Regions from separate parts of the Homo sapiens genome. Here region 2 is linked to region 1. The links come from fine-mapping of genetic effects on gene expression. Tissue or cell type: whole blood. Region 1 holds a variant in brackets; the other region holds the start of a gene. All regions are shown on one strand. Distances are between the middles of the regions.

Region 1 (8,259 bases):
ATGCGTATAGGTGGGGATACCGGTCAGCATCATCTCTATCACTCTGAGAAATTACATTTGAAAGAAATCTCCTGGAAGGTGTGATTACCTTGACCAGACAAGGCCATGGAACACATCCAACCTCATGAGATACACCTGCTAACTGGTGTGGATTTAGCATTAGGGGACTCCAGGTCTGCTACACAGAGGCCTCTGATGTTGCCCAGATTCCGCTTTAACCACCGATTCCTGCAGGCTAGTGGCAATATTTTTCGAGTCATTAGAGCTGAGGTTCTTTCCTCTGGCATGATGCCAGCAGACAGTGGCATGGAGCAGACGACCAGGAAATTGATTAGCATCATTGAAACCCCGCTTGGCAATAACTCTTCAAATTCCCTAAAACATATTCTGGAAGAATTGCCCTCCAGAAAATAAAAAGGTGAGAGCCACAGTTGGAACTGAAACCCCAGGAATCTTCAAAGTGTGTGGGCAGGCCTGGTACTGCAGGAGCTTGGCTGCAGCTTGGGGGCTTCTAAGGGAGCTGGTGTGAGAGGTCTTGTCCTTTTTTAAGGCCAAACAAAACAAAGCAGCCAAACAGGGCTCTTTCCACCTCTTTGCTGTGCTGTGGTATGTCTCCCATCATGACTTCCATGGACTGGGGTCCCAGAAGCACTTGCTTGCCACAGTTTATTTTGTTTCTGGGTTAGATGGGACCCATGGCCTCCCCTTTGCCTATTAGCATCTCAGTGCAGCCATTCTTGCCTTTGGGACAAGCCTCAGTTCTTTATAAAGAGCACTGGCTTCTATCTGAACAGACCATCCCACCCTGTGGGCTGCCCAGCAGGTAGGCCTGCTGCTGCCGTCTGGTCGTTAAGTGTTCAGGGGGACCTTCAATTGGGAAAGGCCTGAAGCTGGCCTCAGTGGCACAGTAATTGGAGGCTCCCAGCAGCTGTGCAGACAATGCTGCACATTCCAGGGCAAGATACTTCATAGGAGCCTCCTCCTCTTGAAGCTGTGACATGTGCCTGTCTTGTGGGCCAACAGCCCCCCGACTCACTGAACAGATTCCCTGACCACTTCTTGCTGTCTTCCTGCAAAATGTGGCTTCCCTATACAGTTCCCCATACAGCTGAGCACCACAAAAGTGACAGGGTCCTGCTAGTCCCTGGGGAGAAGCAGATGCTTAAGACGAGGCACTGTGCCACCTGATGCATGTCCTTCCCACACATCGTCATCACCTGGCCCACCCTAAACTCAAAGTCGGCTTGCTAGAGCCATTCAAAGCCCCTGATGGGGGGATGAGGAAGGAATAAACAAAGAAAAGAGTGTTCTGAACACATAGGGCAGACAGCTAATTTCTAATATACCAAAGCTCTTACAAATGAATAAGGAAAAGATTAACAGCGCCCTAGAACAATGGGGAAAGACTGAAGACTCAAGAAATACAAATGGCCATTTAATATATAAGAGAACTGAAAGTTTGCTAATTGCTGTAGACCGAGTGTTTGTATCCTCCCTTCTTTCATAGGTTGAAACCTAATCCCTGATGAGATGGCTTTTGGAGGCAACTTTGGGAGGTGATTAGGTCATGAGGGCAGAGCCTCATGGATGGAATTAGGGCCCTTAGGAAAGACGGCCCAGAGAACTTCCTTGGCCCTTGCCCGTTTCCCTGTTTAACACCTCTCCCACACTTGACTGCACATGGTGTAGGCAGGAGCACTCACGCCGCGCTCATCCTGGTCCCCTGGCTGTGCCTGGCACAGAGGCTGTGCTCAGTGAGTATCTGAGGAATGGATGTGGAGTCAGCCCCTGTGAACCGAGACTCCAAACAGAGCCCGATCAATTTTCAGTTCTGCTTTTGTAAGTCAGCAGTGGGAACAGGGTTTTATTTGGAACGAGAGCTCCTGGGTAAGAGAGGGGAGAAGCCTCACACACAGACCTGGCCGGCCTCTGTGGAAATGATGTCTGGACATGCCTGAGTATCTGTCACGAACTGTGGTAATAAGAAGGAACATGGGCCTAGGAGTGGCAGCACTTTAAATAAAATAAACTTTATATTTTATAAAAGTTTTACATTACAGAAAAATTAGGCAGATAGTACCGAGAGTCCCACAGACTCCACACCTAGTTTCACCTTTTATCAACATCTTATGCTATTAACATCTGTTACAATTAATGAACCGATATGGATACATTCTTATGAACTCAAGTCCATACTTTCTTCAGACATCCTTAGTTTTTACGCGATGTCCTTTTCTGTTCCCAGATCCCACCCTACACATCTCTGTAGGCTCCTCTGGGCTGTGACAGCTACTCAGACTTTCCTTGTTTTCGCTGACTTTCGTGAGGGGTACTGGTCGTGTGTTTTGAAGAATGTTCCTCAATTGGGATTTGCCTGATGTTTCTCTCATGATGAGACTTGGATTTTGGGTCTTGGTTTTTGGGAGGAAGACCACAGAAGAAACACCATTTTCATCACGTTTTATCACAGTACATACTATCAACAGGACTTAATCTTATGTTGATGTTGATCACCTGTCAAAGATCGTGTTTGGCAGGTTCATCCACTGTCAATTTACCCTTTCCCCTTCCTTTACATATTGTATGCCTTGGAAAAAGTCATTCCATGGAGCCCACACTGCAGGAGTGAGAGTTAGGTGTCGCCTTCTTAAGGGTGGAGTATCTTCATAAGGTTTGGAATTATTCTCCACAGGAGATTCTTTCTTCTCGTCCAATTATTGATTCATTCAATTATGCATTGATATCATAGGAACTCATTGATATTTATTTTATATTTTGGGTTATTAATCAATACTACTTTATTTTGTGGCTCAAATAGTTTCCCATTGTGGCCATTGGCTGCTCTGTAGCAGGCTCCTGTCGTGTCTTTTTGTTGTTGTTCAGCACTTCCTTACGTTCTGGTTCTGGCACTACAGGACGCTCTGAGCTCACATTGTATATTTTGTTTCAGTCCCAGAATCAACAATCAGCCATTTCTCCAAAAAGGTCTAGTTCTTTTTGCAGGGATTGGCTTTAGAAACCAAGATCTAGACACAAAGTGTGCTTGGTTTCGAGCAGTAGGAGTGGAGAGGGGGATTTTCCATCTACAGACACAGATGCCACCTAAGTCCATAAGGTCTTATCATTTGCCTGCTTTGTTGGACATGAGCAGACTTTAAGGGCACAGATGGGTCAGAAATTCATCACAAACATCTTTAGAAGGGAATGAGAGTGGCTGAAGTAAAAGCCACTGAAGGAAATGTTATTTGGTCCTCCCAAAATATGAAAAAGTTAATGAATTCAGCAAAGAAAACATAGAGTCTGTTGTTTGCTACTGGACAAGCTCAGTAATAGTTGTCCTAGTGCAGATGTTATTGTAAAGGTGCGTTGAGAAAAGCAATCAAGATTGTATTGGGAGTGTAGGACAAGAACAAGCGCTTTGGGGCCAGAGTGACCTAGGTTTGAATCCTTACTGTTATTTATCTGTCTAGGATGTTGGACAAATCACTGCTTCTCTAAGCCTCACTTTCTCACCTGTGAAGTAGACATAATGATCATAATGTTTGGGGTTTTGTACATAGCAGAGCAGCTCCCTTGCTGTGATCTATTGAAACTCAGCCCTTGACACAAGGGTTTGTAAAAGAAAAAAGAAGAAAAGAAATAATAGAGTTGTTTGAGGATTCATGAGATGCATATCAAGTGTGTAGCCTCAGCCCCTGGCACATAGTAAGTGCTTAATAAATGTCAACTGTCTGATATATGGCCGGGGGCCCCTAGGCCAGGAAACACCTAAGCAGATGTCTGAGGCCCATAAGGCCTGTTGGACACCTGCACATATTATGTTAGAAGAACAGATTTTGGCTTTTTGTAGAGACTGCTTTAGGAGATGGCTCAAAACTAATTTAAGCCCAAATACAGGAACACCCAGGCAGAGCAATTAGCAGTAGATATTTTTCCTAGATTGGGGTGGGGATGCTGCTTTATTGCTTAGATTCTGATAAATGGACCTGTTTGTTCCAGTCTTTTAGATAGAAATGTATAATTTACTCTGCTTATCCATTTGCTTAGGTTTAATGACATTTCATTCTGATGAGTGAAGAATCTACTGTGTTTACGGAGGGAAAAATGCCTTATAGATATACATTTACATTTTTCTTTCATTGTAAATGGATTTTAGTGGCTCCTATTTTAAAATACAAAAGTGAGATGGCTGAGGAATTAGTGGGGGTATCTCTCCTCAGGTGTCTCCT[A/C]TCCTCAAGGAGAGGTTTTTTTTTTTAATTTAAAAATTTTAGGAAGGACAGGGTCTTGCTCTGTTGCCCAGGCTGGTCTTGAACTCCTGGCCTCAAGCAGTCCTCCCGCCTCTGCCTCCTAAAGTGCTGGAATTACAGGTGTGAGCCAACGAGCCGGCCAATAATTTTATTCTGAAATAAAATTTGGTAAACGCAGAGCCACGAGGGGGCGCCCTGGACTCTGGCCTGGTGGTAAATCCAGCACCTTCACAAAGGAGGAAGGATCTCCTAGATGCGGGGTTTGGAATGAAATAGGATCATTGGCTGAACATCTGCCGGGCACCTCACTGGGCACGCACAGGGCCTCACTTACTCAACGCAGACACTCCCTGAAGTGGGTGCTTGTGCCCCATTGTGATGAGCTCACAGGCTCAGGCAAGTTCAGCAATCTGTCCAGGGTCACTAAGGTAATAAGTGGGAAATGAGATTCAGACCCAATTCTGTGCAGTTCTAAAGCCTGGGCTTTCCCAGGCCAGCTGACTAAGGCTTCGGCCCATGTGGGGAGGGCTTGATACCTGGAAGGTGCTGGTCAGCGCGGAAGCGAGGCTGGTGGGCGCGTGTCCTCGGGACGAGGGTCACAGGCATCTGCCAACCAGGGAGGTGTTTGAAGCCGGGGTTAGGGAGTCTCGGGATGTTCCTGAATGTGGGACAAACAGTCTCTCACCGTGACCATCTCGGAGTCTGTGTCCAGCAACAGCCCTTGTGGTTGGGAAGAGACTTTGTTAATGGGAAGAGGGTGTCCTGATTCTCTGGCTTGGTACCTGTTCCCAGAGATGGGTGACTTTTATTGTAAATGAGAGACTTGGCATTCTGCTTTGTATATAATCTCGACTTAATTTTGTCACCATGAATGTGTCACTAGGAATTATTAAATTTGTAAGAATGTAAAGTTTTTGAGCCTGAAGCAATGAGGATAAGACGGTGGACTTTGAAAATCTCTCTCTGAGAGGTAGTGTCTTGGGGGAATTAGTGCTCCTGAAAACAGGGATGAGAAGCTGTGGCCCTGGGGAGCTAATGGGGGGTCAGGAACCAGGAAGGTGATGTTTATCAGGATGGGGAGAGAGGGCTGGAAGAGCATCAGGAGCAAGATAAGGGCAACAAACGCTTTCCGAGCATTAATCTGAGGTTAAAATTATCGTCCCCATTTTACACATGATGAAACTGATGCTTAGAGAAGTTACATAATTTGATTAGGATCAAACAGCTAATATTTGGCAAGGCTGGGACCTGAACCTGGTTTTCCAGATGCCGGTACCCAGTCACTTTCCATAATGCCAAATGGCTTCTCAGAAACTCAACACCTCTTCCCTAAGTGCTTTCCCTGTTTTCCTCAAATCCAGGAACTGTTGGTCTTTTGGGCAATTCTGAGCACAGCCACTAAGTGGCGACATTGCCCGACTATGGCTCAGCCCTGTTTCTCCGGGGAAGAATAGGGGAGGGGAGGGGAGGGAGTCGGAGTTGCCCTGTTGTGTGTTGTGCTGTGTGTGGGGCTTTCTTCTATCTATTTAGTCCTCCCAGCAACCCTGCAGAGGAGGTATTATCTCATTTTCCAGATGAGGCCATTGAGGATCTGCTGGATGACAGAGCTTAGCGGTAGAAGCAGGAATGGAATCAACGTCCAGTTGGATTCCAAGTCCTGTCTCCAAGCATGCTGGGCTCCCAAAGGAAAAGCCTTTCTGTGCCCTCAGACTACACAGTCTTGTGGGGAAGTGGACAGTGGGGACCCCACGTGAGTTTTAGGCTGGGACAGCCCAGCAGTGAAGGAGGAGGCTGGGTGAGGAGTAACCAAGCCTTAGCTTTGGTGATTGATGGGAAGAATTGGGTTCTGAGGTGGAAATCAATTACAGTTACAATCTGCTGTGTGGATCCCCTAGAGTGCTGCTCTACTGGAGACCAACATTCCATCCCTCAGCAAGTTTCTCCTTCTGCTTGGGAAGAGGCTGTGTTTTCTTCCCGATGAAATGGTTGGCTGGTGTTGAGGGGCCATGCTATATGAAAAATGTGTCCTGCATATTTAATTATTAGATCCACTCACAGACAGTGTGTGCTGGAGCCAGCTGGAGCCGGCTTGTGAGCTGGTTTTGTGCATCTCCTCCCAAATCTGTGTTCATAGTCATGATGTTGGTGGTTGTAATTAGACAGAGTGGGAATATTTACACCATGGAAATTAGCAATTACTAGAAACCAGGGCTTTTTCCTCCTGTGGAGCCAGTGGTTAAACTGCTACCTGCTCACTGCTGCCCACCAGGCAGCAGAAGGTGCACATCTGAGAGGCAGGCGAGAGCAGAGAGATGGACCAGGGGCACCATGGATTTGCGGCTCCCATGTCATACTTACTTTGGGATCTGAGTAGAATTGCTGCACATTTAAATGGATATTTTCCCGCCTCTCATATTTTTTTGCTGAGGGCAAATAACTGCATTTGAGAAGTTCAACCTGCATTTGATGCGCCTCCTCTGGCAAGCAAGATGGCTGATGCTGGAGTGTGTCTTGGGGCCCAGCCCTGAGCTGGAGCCCTGCAGGCTCCTAAGGAGGTGGGCACCACACAGCCAGGGTGGGCTGCTGTGTCAGCTATGGAACAATAGCACACACCTGACTGCTCAGGGCTGCCTGAGAACATTTAAGGGAGAGGAGCTCTCCTTCATTTTACCACAGAACGTGGGCCCCTTGTGGGCTGAGATGTCTGTCAGAAGGGGAGGTGCTGAGTGAGGCTGTGCTCTCTTTGAAACCACCTAGGGGCTCAGTGACAGCAGCAGGTGGTGACTGGACAGGAAGGGAAGTCTCCTCCAGTGCCAGGCTCAGGTGTGCTCAGTAAATATGTGCTGCATGACAATCAGAGCAGGCTGCCGCCTGTAGCCTAGATGGAAGCTGCTTGTCTTGTTCCAGAGCATACATGACACCCTCAGGGTCTTCATGGACAACAGCTAAGAGTGCTGGGAGAGCCCAGAGCACCTAATTCACCTGGGGCAGGTCGGGGACGGCTCCCCAGGGCCAGGTGAGCTGCATGTGGAAGGGGCAGCAGACGTTTGATAGGGGATGGCAGGGAAGGCTCTTACTCAGGCACTGGGTGCAGGTGGGCAGACTGGAGGCTGACGGGGCATCCTTCTGTGGTCCATAAGGAATGGGGCTAACCCCTGTAAATGAGGAGTTGTTTTCCCAGTGAACAGCTCCTGCTGGGCTCTCCCTTTCCTCTGTGCCCCATCGAGAGGGGGCTCAAAGGTCTGTGGGCACGTTCTGGGGTTGCAGTTGGGATCTGCAGAGACCACAGGCTTCCCTGGGGGGTGGAGCAGCTGTGACCTGAGTCCCTGGTGGGTTTGGAGGTTGGACTGGGTGATGTGGCCTGTCCTCCTCCTCTGCTGGATGAAAGAGAGATTCTGGAAACCAAGAACTGAGAAGGAACTCTTGAGATAAAGGAAGTCCTGCAGAAAGGCACCTGTCTGCTGTGGTTGGAGTGCGAATGTCACCAACACACTGACGTTGGGCGGGAGCTGGCCCTACCATAGGCCCAAGCTGTCTCTCCATCAGTGGGGCCTTTCCCAGGTTCAAAAGGTAACGTAGTTGGCATGATTGAGGTGGCGAAGACTAGGATGAAAACACCTTGTGAAATGAGACCATGAGCCCCGAGGGAGGAGGGCAGGGCTGGCCACCTCCACCTTAGAGTATGAGGGTCCCCAGTGAGACCACCGAGGCTTTTCAGGCCAGCATGTGTGCAGGGCTGTGCTGGGCGTGAGGCAGTGCAGGCCTGTTTGTGACTGGCAGAGTGTAGACGGAGGTGGCTGTGGTTGGTCCAGGGCTGCCTTGGGGCCCAGAGGCTCTGGATATGGAGCCACAGGCCTTGGTTCCTCTTCCTGGGGGTGGTATGAGGGAGGTGAGATGCCGCCTGGGACAGGCCTGGCCTCCCTCTCCCTTGGTGTGGCTCCTCAAGGTCTGAAGTCATCCTAGTGTGGCAGACTCACTTCACTGAGAGGGGACTTGAATTTGGAAAGACCAT
Region 2 (8,000 bases), 130 kb before region 1:
GACTCAAACCACAAACTCTTGGCTTAAAGTACTTTGGTTTGATCCTCACATGAACTAACTTTGGGCAGAGGAAAGATGTTTCATGGATGCAAACCCCTAACCCTCCTGTCCATCTCAAAAACATTTGCCATGGGGGAACCAGGCTAACAGATATAGATGGCTTAGCAAAACTCATGACCACTCCTGTAAAAATAATTTAGTATCATTATCTCTGTTTGCAATAGCAAACACATTTTTAGAAACTCTTGAAAGGAATATATATTAATGGGCAGTAAGTTGCCCATGGACAAAAACTGAAAGGGACATGAACAGCTACACTTTAGCCCATCTTTCAGTAACAACTGATTAACACTGAAAGATAAAGAATAGTTGCAAATACTTTATGCTTTCTATGGACCCAGGAGTCACTCTTGAACAGGGTGCTACAGGAGATGAAAGACTGCCAAGTAAATATTCCAAAATTTTCTTACTCTCAGCTACAATCTCTTTCCAAATACATAGTCCTTTATTATGTCATTTATTTTCTAGAAAATACACATTACCTAGGAAACCTTCTCTAATTGACCTTATTTGACTACATTTGAAATTAACACGTGAATGTTGAAACAACCCGCAATGAAATAATTTGTACTTGCTGATCTGTTCATTCACTCTAACATTCATTTGTCAAACATTTCTTGAGTACTCACCTCATGCAAGACACTAAGCTAGGCACACAGGATTTCATACAGGCAAACCAAACTGTCCCTGCTTGTGAGGGGCTTACAGTCTGGTGTTGCTTTATGTGGTCTTCAAGAGTCTTACGTGTTTCCCAGTCCCCCAGTTGCATGCTCTCTCTGTGAGCAAGTACTGTACACCTTAATTTTCTAAAACTCTCCTATAGCACCTTACACTAGGCTCTCTACACAGCAAACTGATAAACTGAAAGAATACTAGACTCCATAATCCGCAGCGTATTATTCCTTTCAGTGTGATTTAAATCTGTAAATTATTTAAAATCCATAGAGTCTTGAGGCTGATGTTGCCCAAAGTTACAATTGAATAAGCCTACAGTTAAGGGAGTAAGATTCAGTGCAGCTAGCTGGGGATGTCTGAAGGGGATCTGAGTCCTACCACTCTTAATGGGGAAGAGAATCAGGCAGGGTGGAGGTGAGGAATACCCTTACCCTGCAAAGCTGCACTATCTTACAAGAGAAAATAGTGCTTTAACTATAGGACTTACAGGTATGAGCCCCAAGACTGAACCCCCAAGGTAGGAGCCCCAAGACAGAAAAGTAGAAGGGAAGACCTTGACTGCTGACGGGCACTTTACCCTACTACCAAAGAGAAAGGAGAAAACGGTGCCCCACACATTCTACAGGACCAGTACAGAAGCCTAGTTAGACATGATGGGGCAATGAAAGAGCTACAGATTCAGACTCAGAAGACCTGTGTTTGAGTCTTTGAGTCCAGATTCTGCCACTAGCCAGGCAAGATGGCACTGGGCAAGCCAGGTAGCCTCTCTGAGCCTCAGTTTCCCCTTCTGTGAAACATGAATAATAACCTCTGATGCTTCTGTCTACCTCACACAGAACCACTGTGAGATTCAAATGAGATATGTTCTACGAAAGCACTTAGGAAACTGTAATGTGCTGGGCAAATCCTGAGATTTTTATCTATGAGGATATCCAAACCCCCAGGAGTGTCTCACATCAACCCAGGAAGGCTCACCGCCTCCTCCTTCTTGCACGCCCCCAAAACTTGGGTTCCCATCTTCTCAAATCCTTGCATTTACCAGAAAGAGTTCACCATCCAAATCTTAAAAAGGCAAGTGCACTAATTCTCAAACTCCAAGAGGATGAAAAGGGAAGAAGGGCAGCCATGTAAACCATTCCAATTCCTCACCTTGACACACCTCAGTTCTCCCTTTCCAAGGGTCAAACTGCAGAGAGGCCAACAGAAAGGAGGAAGGAGGTCTGAACTGGCCGTACATCCTTTGTGGCTGTCTGCCTCCTCTTCTCCACTGCCAAGTCAGTTCCCATCTAGGGACTGCTGAACTAATCTAAATGGGACTCTGAGGCAATACAGAGATTAGTGCTTGAGAGAGAGAGATTATATGCATTTTAGGCCACATTCCACAACCAAAAGGAAATTATTATTAGCATGGATAACCGAAGGTGGACTGGGCATGGAGGGAACAATTGCTCCCTTGCAAATATTCTTCCCTATCTCTCCAATAATATTTTTTTCCAGGCCCAGTCCTTTCATTTGCTTGTTCAGTCCTTCAACCACCCATCTATCCAGTTAGGATGTGTGCAGTGCCCACAAAACACACCCCCCACAGCAAGGTTCTCATGGGGAGAAGCGTTGAGGAGGGGTAGGGGAGGGAAGGAAAAGGCAGACACCTTACAAAGTTGTACCAATCATTTGGAGGTAAGAATTGCAACCACACAGTAACATTACCAGTGATAGAGGTGGCTGGGCAGACTCTTGGGGCAAGGGGTGTCATGTGTTCAGACTCTGAGGGCCAGTGCTGCTGCCCAGCAGGCCTACGAGCCCAAAACAATTTCTTCTGGCTCCAGGCAGAGGGAAGGCCCATTTTGCAGAGTCAAGCTTATTAAGAACAGCTTGGAAGATTAAACCTAGAGCATCAGCCGGTTGGCAGGTCTCAATTCAAACTCTAAGCTTGGAGGAGAGGAAATTCTAATGTGATCTATGCATTTTGGGACCATGTCAGCTACTGGTAAAAATCCAGACTTGCATGGGTGCAAAGGATGTTTCTGTCCCATCATTCAGGCCAAGAACATCCTCTTCATTTCTAGAAATGGGATCCACCCCGTCACCAAGCCCCACCATTCCATACCAACCAGCCTGGTGGAGGCCCACGCCTCTGCCAGGGCCCTTCTCCCAGCAGCTCCAACACCTAAAGCCAGTCCCCCTAGTGCAACCCTAGGAGCTCACAAGACTGGCTTGCCCCCACCTGAGACTAGCAAGTTGGGTGGACTCAAATTCAGCCTCTACCCTGGCAAAAGTCAAAAGCCACTGGAAGCACATCCTCCTCCTTTCCCTCTCCTGGCTTCACTGTTTATTGCTTATATTCAAAAGACGCTGAATCAAGAGCTATGTTTTTGCACATAACCACATAGGCTGACAGTCCCCAGAGACTAATGCTCCTAGCCCACCAATTCCCATAGCCCACCCAGACCCCTATTTTCAACCATTTATTAAAATGCAACACCACCCCTCCCAGTCTTTCCTTTAGTCAATGTTGAAAAATCAAATTATTAGCAAACCTACCTGTCTATACTCTGGGGTAACCTTACACTCATGGTTTCTCGGTGTCTCCACGGTTCCAGAATCCTGTAGCTTTGGTGTCTTGATCAGGATTGAATCGCTTGCAATTTTTGAGCAAGGTGAGAGGAGGGCCTCCCAACTTGAAGATAGAATCCTTTCTCCTCCAGCTCTCAGGACCCTGGTAACTGATGCTCCACTCTACTTCTACCAGTGAACATGATTTCCTTTCTCAGCCCCTCTTCCCCTCCCCCGCTTTAAAAAAAAAGAAAAGAAAAGAAAAAAGAAAAAAAAAGGAAAAGAGGAAAAACTACGACCTTCTCAGAAACCAAAAACCCAGCCACGAATCTCTTCAAGGTTAGCACTATGGCCAAAAAAAAATGAATCACAGAAAAATGTGCCTTCAAAATATCACTGTTAACTGCAAAGTACAGATAAAACCATCCTTTAAATCCAGCTTTCTCAGCTGTCCTTCTGTTGGCAAGAGACCCTCTAGCTCAAAGGGGGAAAGTAATTTTCTAGTCTCCAATGCTTAATATGACAACAGCAAATATCTTTGAGGAAAGGAAAAAAAAAAGGATTAATAAATCCGAAATGGCACTTGGAAAAATTCTTTCGGCTGATTTGTACAGTAAAATAATAAATAAAACCATACAATAGTATGTACACAACAGCACTCCTTCCAAGTCCAGTGCAACCCTGGGAACCAAAATTTATGGACTTCCTTAAAAAAAAAAAAGCTTTTACATTAAATGTTTTGAAATTCTTAAATGAGCCAATTGCACCAAAAAAAAAAATAAAATAAAAATCAAAGAACACCTGAAATGCAATGCTTTTTACCTTTAAGATGGTAGTAATGATAACAAACCAGAGATAATCTCTGAAAATATTCTCTCCTTTTCTTTTTCCTTTAAACTTGCAGGTTCCTCCACCTACCCCAGCCTGATTCTCAGACCCAGCCTACGTTCGGCCTTTTTCTGAAAGACAATTTCCTGAGTTAGTTCTGCTGTTGGGCTCCTCCACATCCAGGCTCCGAAATTTTCTCTTGCCTCAGCCTCCATGAAACGGAGATTTCGCTTCCTCCCGTTCCCCCTTCTCTCTCCCTCTCTCTCGCCCGGCCAGAAAGACGGCTCCCTTATTATTCGTTCGGATTATTATTGTGGATTTGAGTTCGAGGTGGGTTTTTCTTCCACACCAGACTCCTGGAAAATCCGATCGCCTGTCTCCTCTCGGCCTCTCCTTGCCTCCCTTTCCGCCCCTCGCCTAATCTCGCAGGCAGGAGCCCGCAGTGCCTCGCGCAGGACGCCCGGCCGGGCCTCGGGCTCCCGGCGCCGCTCGCCCCGCGCCCGACCGCCGTGTTCCGGCCTTCGCGGCCGCTCGGGACGCCAGGCTCGGCGCACAGGGAAGGCTGCGGCGGCTGCGGCAGGCCGGCACGAGCGGGCGTCCGACTGCCGGCGTCGCGGCCGCGCTCGCCTCCTTCCGGGCCCCTTCCCCCTCGGTTCGCCGCTCGCTCGGGCGCAGGCCCGGCCGGCCGCCCCCCTTCCCTCCCTCCTTCCCTGCGAGCCTTTCTCCTTCCCTCGCTCCCGCGGGGCGGGGCCGCAGGCTCCTCCTCCTCGCTGCGCTGCCCGCCGCCCGCCGGCCTTTCCCCTCACGCCGCGGCGGCCGGGGGCGGGGGCGGGAAGCTGACCGCCTTTCCCTGCCTCGGTTCCCGCGGCCGCGACTCCCGCCGACCGGCCCGCCCCTGTCCCGGCCTCCCTGCGCGCCCTGCCCCCCACAACCCTTTGCCGTCGCTCCTCGGCCGGTCCCCTCTGCGGCCCCTCAGTCGCCGGCCCTGCCCCTCGGCGCGGCCTAGCGGGTTCCCATCTCAGCCGGATCCCCGGCCCGGCCCGCGGGCGACCCCGGCCCTGACCCCGCCAGGCACCGCGCGCCGTCCCCGCCGCCGCCACCGCCACCGCCACCCCTGCCGCCTTTTCGCCGCTTTTCCTCGGCTGCTTTTCCCCCTTTTATTGACTTCTGCTCGGGAGCCGACCTTTGTTTCCTACCCCCTGCCCGCCCAGCCACCGTGCCCGCGCCCCGTGCCCCTGCCCACGGGTGCAGGTTTACCTCTTTGCGTCCACCGGCATTACCCCGGCGCCCGCAGCTGCGGCTCACCCTCTCTCCACCTCTCTTCTGATCTTATTTTTCAAACATTTGTTGCGGCCTCCTTCGTGGTGTCAGTTCTTTTAACTGTTTCCTCCCGTTTCTGTGGTCCTTCCCACTTCTAATACCACCGACTTAGGGGGAAGACCCTTCGCTGTTTCCTCTCGGGTTGGGTTGGGCATCTTAATAGCAGGCTGTGTGAAGTGTCTTTGAACTCTATGGAAGAGCCTTTCCAGAGCAATTCTATTTTCATAACCCCCTCTCATAGAATCACAGTTTCTAAATCTTTACAAGTAACGTGACATTTGTCAGAAGGTGCCGAGCGTTATGATTAAAAATCATTAAGGCCGAGGCGGGGCCTGAGGTCAGGAGTTCGAGACCATCCTGGGCCAACATGGTGAAACCCCCCCCCTCTACTAAAAATACAAAACTAGCCGTACGTGGTGGCGCGTGCCTGTAATCCCAGCTACTCGGTAGGCTAGGGCACGAGAATCGCTTGAACCCGGGAGGCGGAGCTTGCAGTGAGCCGAGATTGCGCCACTGCACTCCAGTCTGGGCAACAGAGCGAGACTCCGTCTCAAAAAACTAATAATAATAAAATTTTTTTTAAAAAATTATTAAAATAAAAAAACTCTCACTAGGATTGGGGAGTGGACTTTGCCTTCTTGCCTAGGTAAATGCCATTGTAAAATACTCTGCAGGCAGTGGGGTGTTTGCATAAGTTCTCTCCTTTCACACTACCTGGATTGTTCTGGGAGGGGGTGGATATGTATATGTAAATTATCTATACACATTCGTGAGCTCTGGAGTGACCTCACCAGTGTTAGAAGTGGTAGATATGCAAATTGCAAGAGGAAAAAGAAACGAATAAGCATCAGTTGAAGACCTACTATGAACCAGGAACTTTCCCTTTAATGTATATCAGGTATAGGTTGGCAAATAAAAGAACCTGCTTCCTTCACCCTGTCTCCACCAACCCCTAGGCCAGAACTCCCCAAAACAGGTGATCTGCCCAGCATTTGAAGCACAGTCTAGATTGTTGCTGACTTAATTGTGTCTTTCTTTCCCATACTACCCGCAAAAATGATGCTCTCAAATGTGGACACTGCTCTGTGGTGACAGACCACTGGTTGCCACACATTTTAAAATAATGTTTTCTTGGCCAGGTGCGGTGGCTCACGCCTGTAATCCCAGCACTTTGGGAGACCGAGGCGAGTGGATCACCTCAAGTCAGAAGTTCGAGACCAGCCTGGCCAACATGGTGAAACCCCGTCTCTACTAAAAATACAAAAAATTAGCTGGGTATGGTGGGGAGCGCCTGTAATCCTAGCTACTCCGGAGGTTGAGGCAGGAGAATCGCTTGAACCCGGGAGGCAGAGGTTGCAATCAGCCAAGATTGCGCCACTGCACACCAGCCTGGGTGACGAGTGAAACTCCATCTCAAAATGATAATAATAATGATAATGTGTTCTTAATATATGTAATATTTTTAAAGCAAGTATTTACATATATTTTATTACATATCTTATACAACATTGCCTAGTGTAGAAATATTAAAAGGTTGAAATTTAAAAATGAACATTTTTTAAATCATGCTTTTTGGTGAAAGTTAATTGCTGTCATAACTGGAAAAGATGCTTGCCAAAGATAGGTAGATTCAAACAGAAGAAGTATGCCCTTGATTGCATTTATTAAATCATGATACTTATTTTCCAATCCCATTCATCAACAATGCAAAGACTTCTAATTGAAATTCAACTAGTAAATTTATATCTTAAGTCAATCCTTCTTGAATGATTGGAAGGTGTTACATTTTTATATTCTTAACAAATGGGTTCCAGCCATTAAGAAATTTCATTTAACTTTAAAAAATAGGTTTTCAAATTCTGTTTCCTAATTTTTCAGTGTGCAAAGGTTTTGATAGGTGAAACCATTGTTTTTGGTAATTAAAAAAATCACAATATTGGAACCATTTCCAGTCATCCGTCTTCAAAATACTTTTTCCTAAAGTATGTGTTTCTTTAGAAAAGCAGTGACTTCCTCGCTCGTAGATAGACTGTCATCTTAACCTTGAAGGGACAGCTTGAAGGGACAGATTAAGCGGTGTTTTTGTTGTTTGTTTTTGTTTTTGCAAGTAAGTGCTAGGTAGCATACTCTTGACAGCCATTTCTCATCATAGAACACTGAAATAAAACTGTGCATCTCCTCCATGTTCAGTATTTCATTTTAGGCTTTCCCCAGGAGATTGTTAATCTGCACAGCAAAGATTTTCATGGTCATTCTCTGTCATTACAAAGAATTGTAAAGTTTGTAGCAGTTAACAGGCTTGTTTTTGTCTGGTGGGTGGCGTACATCATGAAGAAAATGAACGTCAATGGTGATGTTACCTCTGGTTCTTGGAACCTCCTCATATACTGTGTGTGACAGATGACTTCTGACATAGTGACTGAGTGAGAATGCCATGTCATTAGTGTTAGTAAAACCTAATTATTTTTGCTATAATTAAATACTATTATGAGTGCATTCTTTTTTTTTTTTTTTTTTTTTTTTTGAGACGGAGTCTCGCTCTGTCGCCGAGACTGGAGTGCAGT

Evidence for each region. PIP is the estimated chance that this variant, and not a neighbour inherited with it, causes the effect.
Region 2: it holds the start of ARHGEF11, and the variant in region 1 is fine-mapped to the expression of ARHGEF11 in whole blood (TOPMed, PIP above 0.99). The same link has a PIP of 0.9 or more in lung.

What each region holds. Positions count from the first base shown.
Region 1 is chr1:157,166,481-157,174,739 of GRCh38, forward strand. It overlaps LOC107985211 (a long non-coding RNA gene), which reads left to right and starts at 7,011. Exons shown (of 4, transcript XR_007066653.1): 1 at 7,011-7,263. RefSeq lists an enhancer at 6,301-6,802. The variant A/C (reference allele first, on the strand shown) is at 4,230.
Region 2 is chr1:157,041,023-157,049,022 of GRCh38, forward strand. ARHGEF11 (Rho guanine nucleotide exchange factor 11) reads right to left here and starts at 4,720. Exons shown (of 41, transcript NM_198236.3): 1 at 3,277-4,720. The coding sequence starts at 3,308. RefSeq lists a silencer at 4,631-4,930.